Linked DNA regions of Homo sapiens. The protein of the gene in region 2 interacts with the protein of the main gene of each other region in a pairwise test. Each region holds a gene or a part of one and is shown on either strand. Other genes may lie near its edges.

Region 1 (3,831 bases), on a different chromosome or scaffold from region 2:
GCCTCAAGCAATTCTGCCTCAGTCTCCCAAGTAGCTGGGATTACAGGTGCCCGCCATCACGCCCGGCTAATTTTTGTATTTTTAGTAGGGATGGGGTTTCATCATGTTGGCCAGGCTGGTCTTGAACTCCTGATCTCAGGTGATCTGCCTGCCTCAGCCTCCCAAAGTGCTGGGATTACAGGCTTGAGTAATAAACTAACAAAAGCTCTGAGCTACTTATAATTTGTAGAAAGCTTTGATAGGAATGCCTGCTTTCCAGAAAATTAGTATTAAGGCTTAAACCCAAGTAATATGGCCGTAATTTTGGTGCTGGAATGGCCTATGTTAGAAATTGCAAGATCTCTATATCGAGAGATCTTTATGAGTTGGAAAATATTTTCCTTTCTTAACCTGGGTATTTATCTTACTCTCTCTCCTCATCCTGCTCCTATTTTCATTAACCCAACTCAGCCAAACCAGATAAAAGCTGAATAACTGGCCATCATCCCTCTCCCTAATCGTCAAGGTTTTTTGTTTTTTTGTTTTTTTTTTTGTGTCATCTCGGCTCACTGTAACCTCCGCCTCCAGGGTTCAAGTGATTCTTGTGCCTCGGCCTCCCTAGTAGCTGAGATTACAGGCACACGCCACCATGCCCAGCTAATTTTTTTTTTTTTTTTTTAAGTAGAAATGGGGTTTCACCATGTTGATCAGGCTGATCTTGAACTCCTGACCTGAGGTGATCCGCCTGCCTCGGCCTCCCAAAGTGCTGGGATTACAGGCATGAACCACCATGCCCAGCCTCTATCTTCCATTCTTTAAAAATAAATCACCTGTCTTCCTTATCCACCCCAAATTAATTAAATAAAATTTTATTTGTATACTATTTACCAAGCATGAACCATGACTTTTCAATATGTGTTATTATGGGTTTTCTTTTTCTTAATTCTAATGGGAGTTATCATAGATTTGTATTAAGGTTTTACTTTTTTCTTTTTTTTTTTGAAGACAGAGTCTCACTCTGTTGCCCAGGCTGGAGTGCACTGGTATGAGCTCAGATCACTGCAACCTACGCCTCCTGGATTCAAGCAATTCTTGTGCCCTTGCCATCTGAGTAGCTGGGACCACAGGCCTGTGCCACCATGCCCAGCTAATTTTTGTATTTTAACTAGAGACAGGGTTTCACCATGTTGGCCAGGCTGGTCTCAAACTCCTGGCCTCAAGTTATCTGCCTGCCTCAGCCTCCCAAAGTGCTGGGATTACAGTTGTGAGCCACTGCACACCTGGGAATCAACTTCAGAGGTTTATGTGGTTTCATGTACAAATATATGGTTTCTAATTCTCCTGAATTGTCTTCAAAAACTGTTTACAGCTGTTTCTAGAAAAGACTGTAAATCTAAAAGTCAAAAAACTAATAAAAATTAAGGAGTGGAAAAATGTCTTTTGTTCCATTACACAAAGTTCAAGTGAAAGGGAGAATACTAAGTATATGATTTTTTCAAGCATCCCTACGGATAGCCTGAGAAGGTTCATAATATAGTAAAAATACATATATATTTTAGTTTTTCAAACCCTTTGCTATTTACTAAATATTTATTAGGTTGCTGCTAAAGTGATTGTGGTTTTTGCCATTAAAAGTAATGGCAAAAGCCGCAATCACTTTTGTACCAACCTAATACTAGGTAAATATTTAGACTGAACATGCCTAGAAAGCATTCTCTCAAAATACTTACTTCACCAAGGTTAAAATGTTTTCTATGCTTTTATACTTTTCTGTTTCACCCTACTTCATCTTTTGTTTTTCTTGAATCCTCAGTAAATTTTCATAACTAATTATGTTTTCACTCTCTCCTGAATTTTCATTCTAGAGGCAAATAACAGTAGAATTCAAAGCCTAAGTTGCCTTGCTGGTTCATAAACTACTTTTATTCCAAGATTACATCTTATATCTTAATCACCAAAAGCAAGGAAATGTTTTCTATCCCTATCAAGTGGTTTATTGTTAATGAGTGGCAAAAATTCTATTATTAAAAACAAAACAAAATTCAAGGGAGTAGTAGTTTTGGGACCCTCGAAGTATGCTTTAATTCCAAAAGGTGAATGAAGATTTAAAAGATTATTGGTGAAGACAGTATGCATATAAAATTTCACTGTGGTCATCTGATCCTATCATCGTACATCTTAACTACTACATATTAATAGTAGTCTATATTTCGGTTATTCAAGACATAACTCACGAGAACTCTCCCCTCCTAACCCCTTCTTTTAATGTAGATTAATCTCACATTTCTTCTTCTAAATGATTTTAGCTTAACGTACATTATTCTACTTAATAACTATAAAGGCTATAAAACGAAAGCTACAATGAAATGCTATTAATGCAGACCAAAAACATGAAAATAAATAGAACACTTACTGGCTCTGTTAGTGTTGTATCTTTCTCCAGGAACTGTACAACACAATATGCTAGCTAAAAGGTAAGGGACAGTTTATAAATATTAGTGAGATAACATTTAATAATGTAGGATTTTTATATTTAGCCAATATTTTTTAGACTACCTCATTTTGATAAATTATTCCAATATATAAAAATATACTCACAACTGTGAATGAAATTGTGAAATACCTCAATCGTGAAACTATACTCACAATTGTGTAACTTTTTAGCCTTGAAAGTAACTTCAAGTTTAAAAAACATTTTTAGTAGTAATTTCTGACTATAAAGTTAACTGAAATAAGACTAGAGCTAACAATTTAGTTTTTCAGCATGTTTCTACATGTACACCTATGCTGATATATTATTCTCTAAATATTAATAGAAGAGACCAAAATCTCTCTAACTAGGTCTAGGTTATTGCAGCTGGAAGAAACATTCTGTAGATATGTGGGATTTATTCAAAGTCACATAATTAGGTCAAGACCTGGACTATAATATGAGGAAAGTGTGTATCTTAAACTGTAAGTGTAGATATAGAAATTAAATAATTGGTCTTACTTAACAACTAAATACTTTAAAATAAGAAAAATTTGCTTTGGGTAATTTTGTAAGCAAATTGCTTAATTATACTTAAAACTGTCATCTCAGTATTTCTCAATTTCTCTGCCTTTATATTGGCCTTTGAAATAATATTCATTTCATCTGAAATGTTTCTGAAACTTACCTGAGCATGAAACAAAGCTAATCCTTTTGCAGTATGCATAGGAATAAGAACCTTCATTAGAAATTGTTTATGTTCTGCTTTCAGTGGCAATGCAAAGCCATTGATAATACTGGAGGGAAAAAAAGGCAGGGGAAGGGTTAAGTAGTTACTACTTTGTTTCTAAAAGCTGTCATATCCATGAGTACATAAGGAACAGTGCTATGCTTCAATCCTGGTGTTGTATGACTGCTCATCTTCAAACTACTTTAGGAAGACTATTACTATGAAGTCTGTTCCTCTAAGTCATTTGATGATTCCAAAAGAAAATTAGGACTGTCAATTAATTCCCAAGTAATTTCTATCTTCATTTTCTATCAAACCTGTCACTTTATGCATTGTTGCTTTTATTTTTGCCCCCAAAGCTCCAGGAGAGTCAGTACCACAATATTGTTAGAATGTTCAATATTTTTCTGAAGTAAATGGGTAATTTTTCTTACTTTGTTGGATAACGTGAAAGAAGTAGTTCTCTCCACAATCATTTTCTACTATTAATAAAGGAAACTAAAATCATTGTCTAAATAGTAACAGAAGGGTCTAAAATTCTCTTAATACTAATACGTAGTGAATAAGGAAGGCAAAGTGTTATGGCAAAAGGTAATAAGAATTCAGCTGAGGCTGGGCATGGTGGCTCACGCCTGTAATCCCAGCACTGTGG
Region 2 (3,831 bases):
TTTTTAGAAGATACTCAATAAATATTGTGTTTGAAATGTATACTCCCCAGAAAGTCTTGTTTCCTAGATTGAGGAAGACTAGGAATAGGGAGTAGGGAGTAAACTTCCTGCTGTGTTACTATTGTCATACCCATAAATGTCATTTCCTTGTATTAATTCAGGTTTCATAATCTTACTTTGTTTAGAGTTTAAATGGCAACATAAAAACAAGCACATATGTTAATACAACATGATGTTTTCAGTGAAGTAAATCTTATTACCTGGATCTGTTTCTCCTTCCATTCTCATTTATGTTGGCATTTTTATGAGGGCTCTTATGTTGAGTAATTGATATTTGAACTTTGAGAAGATTGTACCCAAACCTGCAGGAATTACAAAAGCATTTCTTTTAGAAGTGTAAGATTAACAAAATCTTACACTTGAATCTTTAAAAGACAGTTTTTCAGGATCATTTCATGAAACATTGATAATGCAATGAAAGCGGGTTATTTAGGACTATGTGACATGACTATGTGTACATCTGAGACCAGAGATTTTTTTCTCTAGTCACTGCTGTATCCCCAGCATGTAGCATCATAATGCCTTGCTCAACAGATAATTCAGGAATGAAAAAAACTACTTGTGGATAGAGTGGATAAATAGTGATCTGGTAGGTACCATTTTATTTCTTCATACAAATATAAAATCCCTAATGTATTTAATAAAATCCTTTTTTATAGTTGGTGGCTAAAGGAGTTAAGAGTTCTGATGTTTCTCCACCTTTGGGACAGCATGAAACAGGTGGCTCTCCATCAAAGCAACAGATGAGATCTGTTATTTCTGTAACTTCAGCTTTGAAAGAAGTTGGCGTGGTAAGTTTCCTAAGATTCAGAACTCCTCAAAGTCAAAAGATTATTTAAAAGGAAATTAAATTTAATGAAATCACATTAATCCCTAATGTCCCTTTCAGGTTTTTCTAAGGAAAAAAATTACTTTTTAAGGGATTTTAGTTTACTCAGAATACTGGAGCCTCATTGTTTATAAGTTTTATATCTAGGACCACGTGGTAGATGAAAATATATCACAATAACTCTTATATTACTTTAAAAGAATATTGAAAAAATAAAATATACAGAGAAATGTACTGAAAATAATACTATAAACATTTTTCTACCCAACCCTCATGATTAACAAATGTTCACTTTAAAAAGAATAATGTCTCTTTGGTGCTAAAGTAGCTCTAGGTATTAGGTCCAACACATATTTACATTTATTCAAATTTTGTGACATGGCAAATGTTAGAGGACTCAGTAGAACTAGTTAATTCATCAGTTATTCCTTTTACCTTCTACTTCTGAATCTCTGTCATGCCCTACAGATAGTAAAACAAAGAAACATAGACAAATAAAAAGCTTAAACTTAGAAGTATATTTCAGGTATCTGTCTGAAGTGTGAAGACTGTTCAGGGGTTAAGAGAAGTGGGCTCATAGTGTGGAGCTGCGGCCTAGAATTCAACAGACAGGAGGAGAAAAGTCTACTGAATCAGATAACATAATAACTTCATTTTCCCCTTTCCTGGTAATGGATGTCTGTGCTTTTTATTTGTTTAGTTTCAGTAAATATTTGCAGACAAAATTGGTACACTAGCTGTTTTTTTTTATAGCCTTTGGGTTGATTTTGAAAATAAAACTCAGTAGGAAAATATAAGTTTCTTGATCATTCTCAAGAACTTCATGTAAGAAACTATTGTTCTTCAAGTAGGCTTAGTCACTTTTTCTTTCTGATAACGACTTTGCGTGTGCCACGTTGTTACTCCAACTTTAGATACCACTGTGTGGTCCCTCCTTGGTACCCAGTCTCACATCTCAATAGCTGTTCATCTCTCTGGTTGTAGGACTGCTAATTCCTGACTACTTTACTGGGTAAAATGTTCTTTGTCTCATTGCTTCATATATTACTTTGAAACTGACCACCAAATTTTTAATTTTTTTTAAGTATTACAAAATTCGAGGTAATCCATATAACTGAACGGTTTTCTTTCTGTGTTGTGTTGGTAAATGTCACTTACTTAAAACTTAGAAAATTGTTCTTTGAATCTTCTACATGCCTTTGCTTTCATAGCTTTCGTAACTGCTAATTTCTTCTTTTCGTATGTTTTTTAATTTTAGATAGTCTGGATTGCTTTGACAATGCTAATTAGGAGATAACATTTATGTCATTTGTAGTACAAATGACTCAGAACTAATTTTTGTTACACTCTTTGTTTAGGGAGGAAAGCCACTTCTCAATTACATTTAGTACTATGGCTTAACAAGGATATATATACATGAAACATAAAGACAGTTTTAGAATAACACAGCCTATTTTGAATTACTTCATCTATCAAAACTTTTTCTAGTTATAATTAAGAGAGTATATGAATTTTCCTCTAATTTCTACTTTTTCCTCTAATTTCTACTTTTTCCTCTAATTTTCTGACTTAAATTACCAAAAAATCAGGTACCAAAGAGGAAGAGGATATAGTTAATTATGTGAGCAGTAATCTAAAAATATGACAAATAATTGAGAATTGGCCCCTGTCTATGTTGTCTAATTAATAATATTTAAAGGTTAGTCATTGCTGATAATGAAGGAAGCTTTGTTAACATTTTATAGGAATAAAAAATTTACAAGGAACAAATTAATGAAAACCAAAAAGTAACGAGGATGTAATATTTTTAAAGGTAGATTTAAAAAAATAAAATTATCTCTTCCTCTGTATCTATCTGCATTTAAAGGACAGTAGTTTAACTGATACCCGGGAAACTTCAGAAGAGATGCAAAAGACCAACAATGCTATTTCAGTAAGTAAAATTTTCAAAGTTTATCAATCATTTTACTTAATGATATACATATTAAAATATATAATGTCGTGACTTTCAGAGTAAGCGAGAAATACTTCGTAGATTAAATGAAAATCTTAAAGCTCAAGAAGATGAAAAAGGAAAGCAGAATCTCTCTGATACTTTTGAGATAAATGTTCATGAAGATGCCAAAGAGCATGAAAAAGAAAAATCAGTTTCATCTGATCGCAAGAAGTGGGAGGCAGGAGGTCAACTTGTGATTCCTCTGGATGAGTTAACACTAGATACATCCTTCTCTACAACTGAAAGTATGTATAGTAGTATATTAATATCCTATTTAGGTCTAGTACATATGTAAACTTATAGACTAACCACTCTGAAAAAAATGAACACTTAGAAGAATTGAGAGAAGCTGAAAGAATTCTATATATTTTCCTTTTGGGCGAATAGAAGTGCCTCCCTCTCACAGTGAAATGTGAAGAGCAGAGAAAACTAATCAAACTAATCAGCCTTAATAGCAAGGATTTTTATTACAAAAGTGTATAGTGTGAGAGAGGGAACTAATGATACATATTTAAATTGCATTACTTTAACTCTGTATACCATGTTAAATTAATCTGTTACTATGAATAATTCTTGATGAGAACCAGGGTAGTGTCTCAGAAACATCTCTTAGGCATTTAGCGAGAGTATTGAGAAAATCTGACTTAATGATTTATATATTCGGTGATAATTACTGAGAATCTATATTTCTTACATTGTTCTAGGAATTGGAGATATAGGAACAAAACAGAAACATATGTGCTCTTGTGGAGCTTACATTCTAGAAGGGCAAGTCTGACCATCAACAAATCTGATTTTAAGTAATTTTTTTCACAGACTGTTTTTGTAGAATTTTTTCTTGCATTGGAAAAAAGCCCAAAGACTTGATAGCATTTATTTTGCTTATTTATTCAACAGTTCTTTATTGGGTACCTACCATATGTAATACACTCTTAAGCAATGGGAA

The links.
Region 1: the proteins of NEK1 (region 2) and PPP2R5A interact in a two-hybrid assay, tested with the Homo sapiens proteins (one study listed by BioGRID).

Annotation. Positions count from the first base shown.
Region 1 is NC_000001.11:212,347,804-212,351,634, reverse strand, and holds part of PPP2R5A (serine/threonine-protein phosphatase 2A 56 kDa regulatory subunit alpha isoform), read right to left. Parts: intron 3,247-3,831; coding exon 3,138-3,246; intron 2,447-3,137; coding exon 2,393-2,446; intron 1-2,392. UniProt on the Homo sapiens protein: The B regulatory subunit might modulate substrate selectivity and catalytic activity, and might also direct the localization of the catalytic enzyme to a particular subcellular compartment.
Region 2 is NC_000004.12:169,476,423-169,480,253, reverse strand, and holds part of NEK1 (serine/threonine-protein kinase Nek1), read left to right. Parts: intron 1-719; coding exon 720-851; intron 852-1,873; coding exon of another isoform or gene 1,874-1,882; exon of another isoform or gene 1,883-2,730; intron 2,731-2,756; coding exon 2,757-2,822; intron 2,823-2,901; coding exon 2,902-3,130; intron 3,131-3,831. UniProt on the Homo sapiens protein: Phosphorylates serines and threonines, but also appears to possess tyrosine kinase activity. Involved in DNA damage checkpoint control and for proper DNA damage repair.